Regions from separate parts of the Homo sapiens genome. Here region 1 is linked to region 2. Evidence: fine-mapped expression QTL. A gene starts in region 2. The other region holds a variant in brackets. All regions are shown on one strand. Distances are from middle to middle.

Region 1 (4,383 bases), 83 kb after region 2:
TCCGGCTCCCTCGTGGCATCTGGGACAGCATGCTGGGGACAGCTTCCATCAGAGCACCTCACAACACCCACACTGGACATAAAATGTGAGCAAGAAGTAAATATCTTTTTTTTTCTGTTTTTGAGATGGAGTCTCGGTGGCTCACCCTTGGCTCACTGCAACTTCTGCCTCTGGGTTCAAGCAATTCTCCTGCCTCAGCCTCCCGAGCAGCTGGGACCATGGGCGCCCACCACCACACCCGGCTAATTTTTGTATTTTTAGTAGAGATGGGGTTTTGCCATGTTGGCCAGGTTGGTCTTGAACCCCTGACCTCAGGTGATCTGCCCTCCTTGGCCTCCCAAATTGCTGGGATTACAGGTGTGAGCCACCGGGCCTGGCTCTTTTTTTTTTTTTTTTGAGACAGGTTTTGTGTCGCCGAGGCTGAAGTGCAGAGGTACGACCATAGCTCAGTTCAGAAGCCTCGACCTCCCATGCTTAAGTTATCCTCCTGCCTCAGCCTCCCAAGTAACTGGGATTATGAGATTACAGGTGCACCACCACACCCAGCTAATTTCTTAACTTTTTGTAGAGACAAGGGTCTCACACTGTGTTGCCCGGGCTGGTCTCAAACTCGTGGCCTCCAGTGATACTTCCACCTCAACCTCGCAAAGTGCTGGGATTTTAAGTGTGAGCCACCGCACCTGGCCAAATCTTTACTCTGTTAAGCAACTGCAGCCAGGGACTTTTGGTTACTGCAGCATAACCCAACCTGTTCTGCCCAATTCTGGTACATGAGAGAATGCAAGGAAGAAAAAAAGGAGGGAGGCAGGAGAAAGGAGGGAGGAGATGAGAGTTGCTGGGCTCTCTCGGAGGCCTGCTGTGACCACACACCCTCCCTCCCCTCCCTATTCCTCACCGCTGCCACCAGGCTGTTGTCTGTGATGAAGGTCAGCGCCAGCAGTGGTAGTGTTTCAGAGGCCAGAGTCGCGACGCTGAGGGGAGAGAGCTGTGAGTCACGGTGTCCCACTCCTCTGCACTCACCTCCTCCCCTGGGGATGGCCTCGACTCACGCCATCTTCTTGTCGGCATCAGCCAGGCAGACGGTGCTGTCGTGGCTTACCCAGGCCACGCGGCTCCCGCTGGCTGAGAAACAGACGCCATGTACCCAGCCGCAGCTACTGCTGGATTCGAACATCAGTTCCCCAAAGGGCATCTTGGAGCCCCACGGGGTGGGTGCCGGCCGTTCCTCCACCTCCTTGATGTAGGCTGAAAAGATCCTACCGGGATAGGCAAAGTAGAGGTAAAGTAGCCAGGCATGGTGGTGCGCACCTGTACTCTCAGCTACTCAGGAGGCTGAGGCGGGAGGATTGCTTGAACCCAGGAGGTCAAGGCTGCAGTGAGCTGTGATTGCGCTACTGTGCTCCAGTTTGGGCAACAGAGTGAGACTGTCTCAAAAAAAAAAAAAAATTTTTTTTAAAGGGTTAACAGGTGCCTGGGCATGGTGGCTGAAGCTTGTAATCCCAGCACTTTGGGAGGCTGAGGCAGATGCATCACTTGAAGTCAGGGGTTCGAGACCAGTCTGGCCAACATGGTGAAAACCCGTCTCTACATTTAAAAATACAAAAATTAGCCGGGCATGGTGGCATGCGCCTGTAGTTCCAGCTACTCAGGAGGCTAAGGCAGGAGAATCGCTTGATCGCTTGAACTCAGCAGGCGGAGGTTGCAGTGAGTCAATATCACGCCACTGCACTCCAGCCTGGGCGAAAGAGCGAGAGTCCGTCTCCAAAAAAAAAAAAAAAATCCTGTCTAGCTGGGCGTGGTAGTCTTGCTTGGGAGGCTGAGAAGCAAGAGGATCGCTTGAGTCCAGGATTTGGAGGCTGCAGTGAGCTATGATTGCACTACTGCATTCCAGCCCGGGCAACAGAGCAAGCCCCTAGCTCAAAAAAAATAAAAGAGGTGGGCAGAGGCCCATCCAGCTGAGACATGAAGGGTTCCCCAGGAACTAGAACCTTCAACCGACGCCCAGGTCATCCACTGGTAGCAGGTCTGGAATGTGTCTAGAAGCTGGGGTGTAGAGCTTTCAGGTGCGGCTCCCCGCTATGATGTCAGCAGTCAGTTGACGTCAGCCCCGCCCTCCCCCATGGCGCCCTGTCTCACCGACACTTGAAGTCACAGGAGCCGGCAGCCAGCAGCACATTGTTGGGGTGCCAGTCCAGGCTGAGGACGGTGGAGCGGATGGGCTTCTTGATGTGCTTGCAAACCCACCTGGGAACGGTGGTCAGGCAGACAGGGAGAGAGGGACAGGCAGGTGGGACTCATGGACCTCAGCACCAGGGACTCCAGGCTCCCACTGCTCCCTGCAGCCCACCAAAGACCCAGGAGAGAGGCGACTGGGCATTGCCAGCCCACAAGGCCGTCAGGGCCCTGGGGCGGCAGGGATGTGCTGTGTCGCTTCTGGAGTGGGAACTCTGTGCCCTCTATCCTTTAGGCCACACAGTCACCCTCAGAGCAGGCTCAGCAAAGTGATGCCATCACCAGAGGTCACACAACTACTAACTGGCCATGGTGGGATGCAAATTTGGGTCTCTCAGATGCTCCTGGCTGGCCTCTGCCCTCAGCCATGCAGGGGAGATTAAAAACTAAGA[C/T]GTGGACTGGCAATCATGGCTCACACCTGTAGTCTCAGCACTTTGGGAGGCTGAGGTGGGAAGATTGCTTGAGGCCAGGAGTTCAAGACCAGCCTGGACAACGTGACAAGACCCTATCTCTACAAAATAAATAAATAAATGATTTGGGCCTGTAGTCCGAGCTACTCAGGAGGCTGAAGTGGTAGGATTACTTGAGCTCAGGAGGCTGAGGCTGCAGTGAGCTATGATCACAACACTGCACTCCAGCCTGAGCGACAGAGCAAGACCTTGTCTCAAAAATATATATATGGCCGGGCGCAGTGGTTCACGCCTGTAATCCCAGCACTTTGGGAGGCGGAGGCAGGAGGACCACCTGAGGTCAGGAGTTCAAGACCAGCCTGACCAACATGGAGAAACCCCATCTCTACTAAAAAATACAAAATTAGCCTGGCGTGGTGGTGCGTGCCTGTAGTCCCAGCTACTCAGTAGGCTGAGGCAGGAGAATTGCTTGAACCTGGGAGGCAGAGGTTGCGGTGAGCTGAGATTGTGCCACTGCACTCCAGCCTGGACGACAGAGCAAGACTGTGTCTCAAAAAAAAAAAAAAAAAAAAAATTGGCTGGGCACGGTGGCTCACGCCTGTAATCCCAACACTTTGGGAGGCCGAGGCGGGTGGATCATGAGGTCAGAAGTTCTAGACCAACCTGGCCAAGATGGTGAAACCCCATCTCTACTAAAAATATAAAAATTATCCGGGCATGGTAGCAGGTGCCTGTAATCCCAGCTACTTGGGAGGCTGAGGCAGAGAACTGCTCGAACCCGGCAGGCAGAGGCTGCCGTGAGCCAAGATCGTGCCACTGCACTCCAGCCTGGGTGACAGAGTGAGACTCCATCTGAAAAAAAAAAAAGGAACAAGATGTGGCTGCGAGCTCGTGAGTGGTGCCTTGAGAAAGTGACTGCTACAGGGCCTTTGCTAATCTGTAAAGTGGGGACAGTGACCGATGCCCAGTCCACGGAGCTGCAGGGAAGTCAGGACTAATGTGTGTGCAGGGCTTAGTGAGGTGCCCCCAGATGTGTTTCTGGTGTGGTGGGTGTCACTGGCAGTGAGAACATCCGGACGCTGCAGAGAGGCCCTTGCCTCATGAATGAGGCCCAGAGAGGAGAGGATGGACTCCCCCAGGGTGATGGGAACAGGGGTCCTGACATCCCATTTGGTGCTTCCCGGGGACACTCTAGTCCTGCCCCCGGTCCCTAACAGCCCACTCTGGCCCTGCCTAGGTACCCACCAGTCATTCTCCTGCTCGAAATAACAGATGGAGATCACACGAGAGCCGCTGCCCACAGCAAACTTGTTCTCGTTGGGGGCCCAGCGCACGCAGCGGGCAGCCCGGTTGATCCGCAGGATGACCAGCGTGGGCTTCCATGTGCGGCCCTTCAGCGTCCACACGTAGGCGTTGCGGTCTGTGCCGCAGGTCACAATACGGTTACTCTCGGGGGCCCAGTCGATGCCTGTGGGGGGATGGAGGGAACACAGGAGGCTGATGACACTCAGGCAGAGGTGGCTGTATGGTGGCCACATGGGAGAGGCTGAAAGGCCACCATCCAGGTGGAAGCTGTATCTGCCCAGCAGGCACTTTTTTTTTTTTTTGAAACAGAGTCTCGCTCTGTCACCCAGGCTGGAGTGCAGTGGCATGATCTCAGCTCACTGCAGCCTCTGCCTCCCAGGTTCAAGCAATCCTCGTGCCTCAGCCTCCTGAGTAGCCGGGACTACAGGTGTGTACC
Region 2 (4,383 bases):
TAAATCTACTTACGTATTTCCAACCCTGCTCCTACAGCCAGCTCCACCTGCTGACAAGCCCCCTCTGAAAGTGTTCTAAAGGGGTCACTCAACCCTCACCTCTAGCCTGGTGATTTGCTAGCAGGATTCAGCAACAGTAACAATTACAGACTTGATTTTTTTTTTTTTTTAAACAGAGTTTCACTCTTGTTGTGCAGGCTGGAGTACAATGGTGTGATCTCTGCTCACTGCAACCTCCGCCTCCTGGGTTCAAGCGATTCTCCTGCCTCAGCCTCCGGAAGTAGCTGGGATTACAGGCACCCGCCGCCATGCCCAGCTACTTTTTTGTATTTTTAGTTGAGATGGGGTTTCACCATGTTGGTCAGGCTGGTCTTGAACTCCTGATCTCAGGTGATCCACCCACCTCAGCCTCCCAAAGTGCTGGGATTACAGGCGTGAGCCACTGCGCCCAGCCTACAGACTTGCTTTCTAACTCAGGATGAATTTTAATGAAATTCACTTTCATTTTAATGGATGCCCCTCAAACACAGTTCACCTTCCCTGAAAACAGTTTAGAAGACCCTTTGCCTTTCTTTTTTTTTTTGAGGAGTCTCCCTCTATCACCCAGGCTGGAGTGCAGTGGTGTAATCATGGCTCACTGTAGCTTCCAACTCCTGGGCTTAAGCAATGCTCCTGCCTCAGTCTCCTAAGCAGATGGGACTGCAAGAGTGCACCACCACGCCCAGTTGTTTGTAGTTCTTTTGTAGGTGGGGCCTTGCTATGTTGCCCAGGGTGGACCCTCTGCCTTTTAAGCAAAGAGGTACACTCTAAAAACTATCCTGATCAATGGCTCCAAGGCTGGAGCAAAGGCCTCATCCCTTTCATTCTCTACACCAAACTTGTCCAAACCTCAGCCTGTGGACCGCATATGGCCCAGGACGACTTTGAATCCAACCCAACACAAATTCGTAAACTTTCTTTTTTTTTTTTTTGAGGTGGAGTCTCGCTCTGTCGCCCAGGCTGGAGTGCAGTGGCGCGATCTCGGCTCACTGCAAGCTCCGCCTCCCGGGTTCACGCCATTCTCCTGCCTCAGCTTCCCGAGTAGCTGGGACTACAGGCGCCCGCCACCACGCCCCGCTAATTTTTTGTATTTTTAGTAGAGACGGGGTTTCACCGTGTTAGCCAGGATGGTCTTGATCTCCTGACCTCGTGATCCTCCCGCCTTGGCCTCCCAAAGTGCTGGGATTACAGGCGTGAGCCACCGCGCCCGGCTCGTAAACTTTCTTAAAACCTTATGAAATTGTTTTGCGATTTTTTTTTAGCTCATGAGCTATTTTTAGTGTTTGTGTATTTTATGTGTAGTCCAAGACAATTCTTCTTCCAATGTGGCCCAGGGAAGCCAAGAGATTGGACACCCCTGCACTATATTTACTGAATGTGTTTGTGAAGGCTGTGCATCTGAATGTCAGACTTGCTAATGAAAAATTAAATGGAGTCCATGTTTTGGGTACGGCCCTAGGCCAACCACCCACAGCCATGTAAGGCATTTAAAATACATTGATTTCTCCCTTGAGTTCAGGAGTTGGAGACTGCAATGAGCTATGATGGCACCACTACACTCCACCCTGGGTGACAGAGCAAGACCCTGTCTCTCTTAAAAACAACAGGCCGGGCGTGGTGGCTCACACCTGTAAATCCCAGCACTTTGGGAGGCCGAGGCGGGCGGATCATGAGGTCAGGAGTTCAAGACCAGCCTGGCCAACATAGTGAAACCCAGTCTCCACTAAAAATACAAAAATTAGCCGGGCATGGTGGCGCGTGCCTGTAGTCCCCGCTACTCGAGAGGCTGAGGCAGGAGAATCGCTTGAACCCGGGAGTTGGAGGTTGCAGTGAGTCGAGATTGGCCCATTGTACTCCAAACTGGGCAACAGAGTAACACTTCGTCTCAAACACAACAGCAACAACAATTCCTTATTTCCCTGAAAAGTGTGCGCTGACCAGGAAAGAAGCTTTTTTCTCGTCCGCATGATAAACTGAACCAATCAGCTACAGATGCGAGGCTGATCCAGCTCGACTTACCCTAGAAGGAATGCAAGTTGATAATGGCCAATTACAATCAAGATCACTGCACTTCCTCATTTAGCTTTCCAAGCTGCCATTGGAACAATTTGCCAGCTGTTCCTCTGCATGCACAATAAACTCTTAAAACTTTAACTGGAGGGGACTGTTAACTTTTGACAAAATCCAAAATGCCGCTTCACAATCACGTGAACACCTTCCACTAACAACCACGGCTCATCTCCCACTCTAACAAAACCAAGTCCAGGCGTTCACCATCCATTCATTCTTCGGACTTTGCTCCTCTCGCTGCCGAAGACTTGACACCGCCAAAAATACTCAAAAGCTGGTGCCACAGGCCCCGAGAGCCGCCGCACAAACCCGGAGCGTCCCCTGCGAGCCGGGGGTGTGCGCAGTGGCCTACCCCCCGCACCCACGCCCCCCACAACACTCGTTTCCTTCTCCCCAAACCTGCTGACGGCTCCGAATCTCCGCCAAGCCGCCTCCACCAGGGGCTGGGCTCTCCTCTCGGGGTTCCCGGGCCTGACCCGAGGTCTGTCTGGTCCGCGCCCCTCGGCGAATCACCCCTTACCGGAGGAACAGACACAACCACTCTGGCAGCCTCAGAGCCTCTCGCTGGCTCCACCTGCGCGCGCCGAGCGAAGCGTCCCAGCCAGCGGCCCCTCTAGGACCGCGGAGGCTTCACGACTCTCTTGTCAGACAAAGAGAGTGGCGCCCGCGCGAGTGGGCCCGAACCAATCAACGGCCGCCCTCCCCGCCCAGGCCAATCAACGGCCGGAGACAGCACCGAGAGAGTCACGTGATGGACAGGGCCCCGCCCCTCCTGTTTAATCGTAACATAATTTAGAATTATTCTATGATTCAAGAGCGACACAATTCGTTTCTTTGGCTGTGTGTTTGTGGAGGGGAGTAAGGTTATCAGATAAAAGAAGAAAAATGGGCCAGGCGCGGTGGCTTACGCCTGTAATCCCAGCACTTTGGGAGGCAGAGGCCGGCGGATCAGGTCAAGAGATTTAGATCATCCTGGCCAACATGGTGAAACCCCTTCTCTACTAAAAATACAAAAAAATTGCCGGGCGCGGTGGCTCACGCCTGTAATCCCAGCACTCTGGGAGGCCGAGGCGGGTGGATCACCTGAGGTCGGGAGTTCGATACCAGCCTGACCAACAATGGAGAAACCCGTCTCTACTAAAAATACAAATAAAATTAGCCGGGCATGGTGGTGCCTGCCTGTAACCCCGGCTACTCGGGAGGCTGAGGCAGGAGAAGCGCTTGAACCCGGGAGGCGGAGGTTGCGGTGAGCCGAGATTGCGCCACCGCACTCCAGCCTGGGTGACAGAGCGAGACTCCGTCTCAAAAAAAAAAAAAAAAAAAAAAAAATTAGCTGGGCATGGTGGCGGCGTGCCTGTAGTGCCAGCTACTCGGGAGGCTGAGGCAGGAGAATCACTTGAACTCGGGAGGCGGAGCTTGCAGTGAGCCGAGATCCCACCACTGCACTCCAGACTGGCGACAGAGCGAGACTCTGTCTCAAAAAAAAAAAAAAGAATATTAGATCTTAATTAAAAGGATAATTGTGTGGCTTATGTAAATTACCCCCAAAATACAGTTTTAATGTGAGTAAGGGGTTAATTTTTTTTCTTTTTTTTTTGAGACAGTCTCGCTCTCGCCCAGGCTGGAGTGCAGTGGCGCGATCTCGGCTCACTGCAAGCTCCGCCTCCCGGGTTCACGCCATTCTCCTGCGTCAGCCTCCTGAGTAGCTGGGACTACAGGCGCCCGCTACCACTCCCGGCTAATTTTTTTTGTGTGTGTGTTTTTAGTAGAGACGGGGTTTCACCATTTTGGCCAGGCTGGTCTCGAACTCCTGACCTCAAGTGATCCGCCTGCCTTGGCCTCCCAAGTTTTGTTTGTTTTTTATTTCTTCTAAACAAAACAAAACAAACAGGATACACGTGCAGAACGTGCAGGTTTGTTACATGTGCCATGGTGGTTTGCTGCACCTATTGACCCATCCTCTAAGTTCCCTCCCCTTACCCCCGACTCCCCAAAAGGCCCAGGTGTGTGTTGTTCCCCTCTCTGTGTCCATGCGTTCTCAATATTCAATTCCCACTTATGAATGAGAACATGCTGTGTTTGGTTTTCTGTTCCTGTGTTAGTTTGCTGAGGCTGATGGCCACCAGCTTCATCCATGTCCCTGCAAAGGACAGGATCTCATTCCTTTTTGTGGCTGCTTAGTATTCCATGGTGTATTTGTACCACATTTTCTTTATCCAGTCTACCACTGATGGGCATTTGGGTTGGTTCCATGTCTTTGCTATTGTAAATAGT

What was found. PIP is the estimated chance that this variant, and not a neighbour inherited with it, causes the effect. A credible set is the group of variants that fine-mapping cannot tell apart.
Region 1: its variant is the best candidate, but not a certain one, in a credible set for the expression of ZNF789 in lung (TOPMed, PIP 0.60).

What each region holds. Positions count from the first base shown.
Region 1 is chr7:99,387,766-99,392,148 of GRCh38, reverse strand. ARPC1B (actin related protein 2/3 complex subunit 1B) reads right to left here. Exons shown (of 10, transcript NM_005720.4): 4 at 3,888-4,110; 5 at 2,137-2,244; 6 at 1,050-1,256; 7 at 896-971. Among named protein-coding and RNA genes, the nearest start is that of ARPC1B, 15 kb to the right of the region's middle. The variant C/T (reference allele first, on the strand shown) is at 2,625.
Region 2 is chr7:99,471,182-99,475,564 of GRCh38, reverse strand. ZNF789 (zinc finger protein 789) reads right to left here and starts at 2,675. Exons shown (of 5, transcript NM_213603.3): 1 at 2,509-2,675. RefSeq lists enhancers at 2,386-2,675, 2,966-3,055, 3,276-3,435.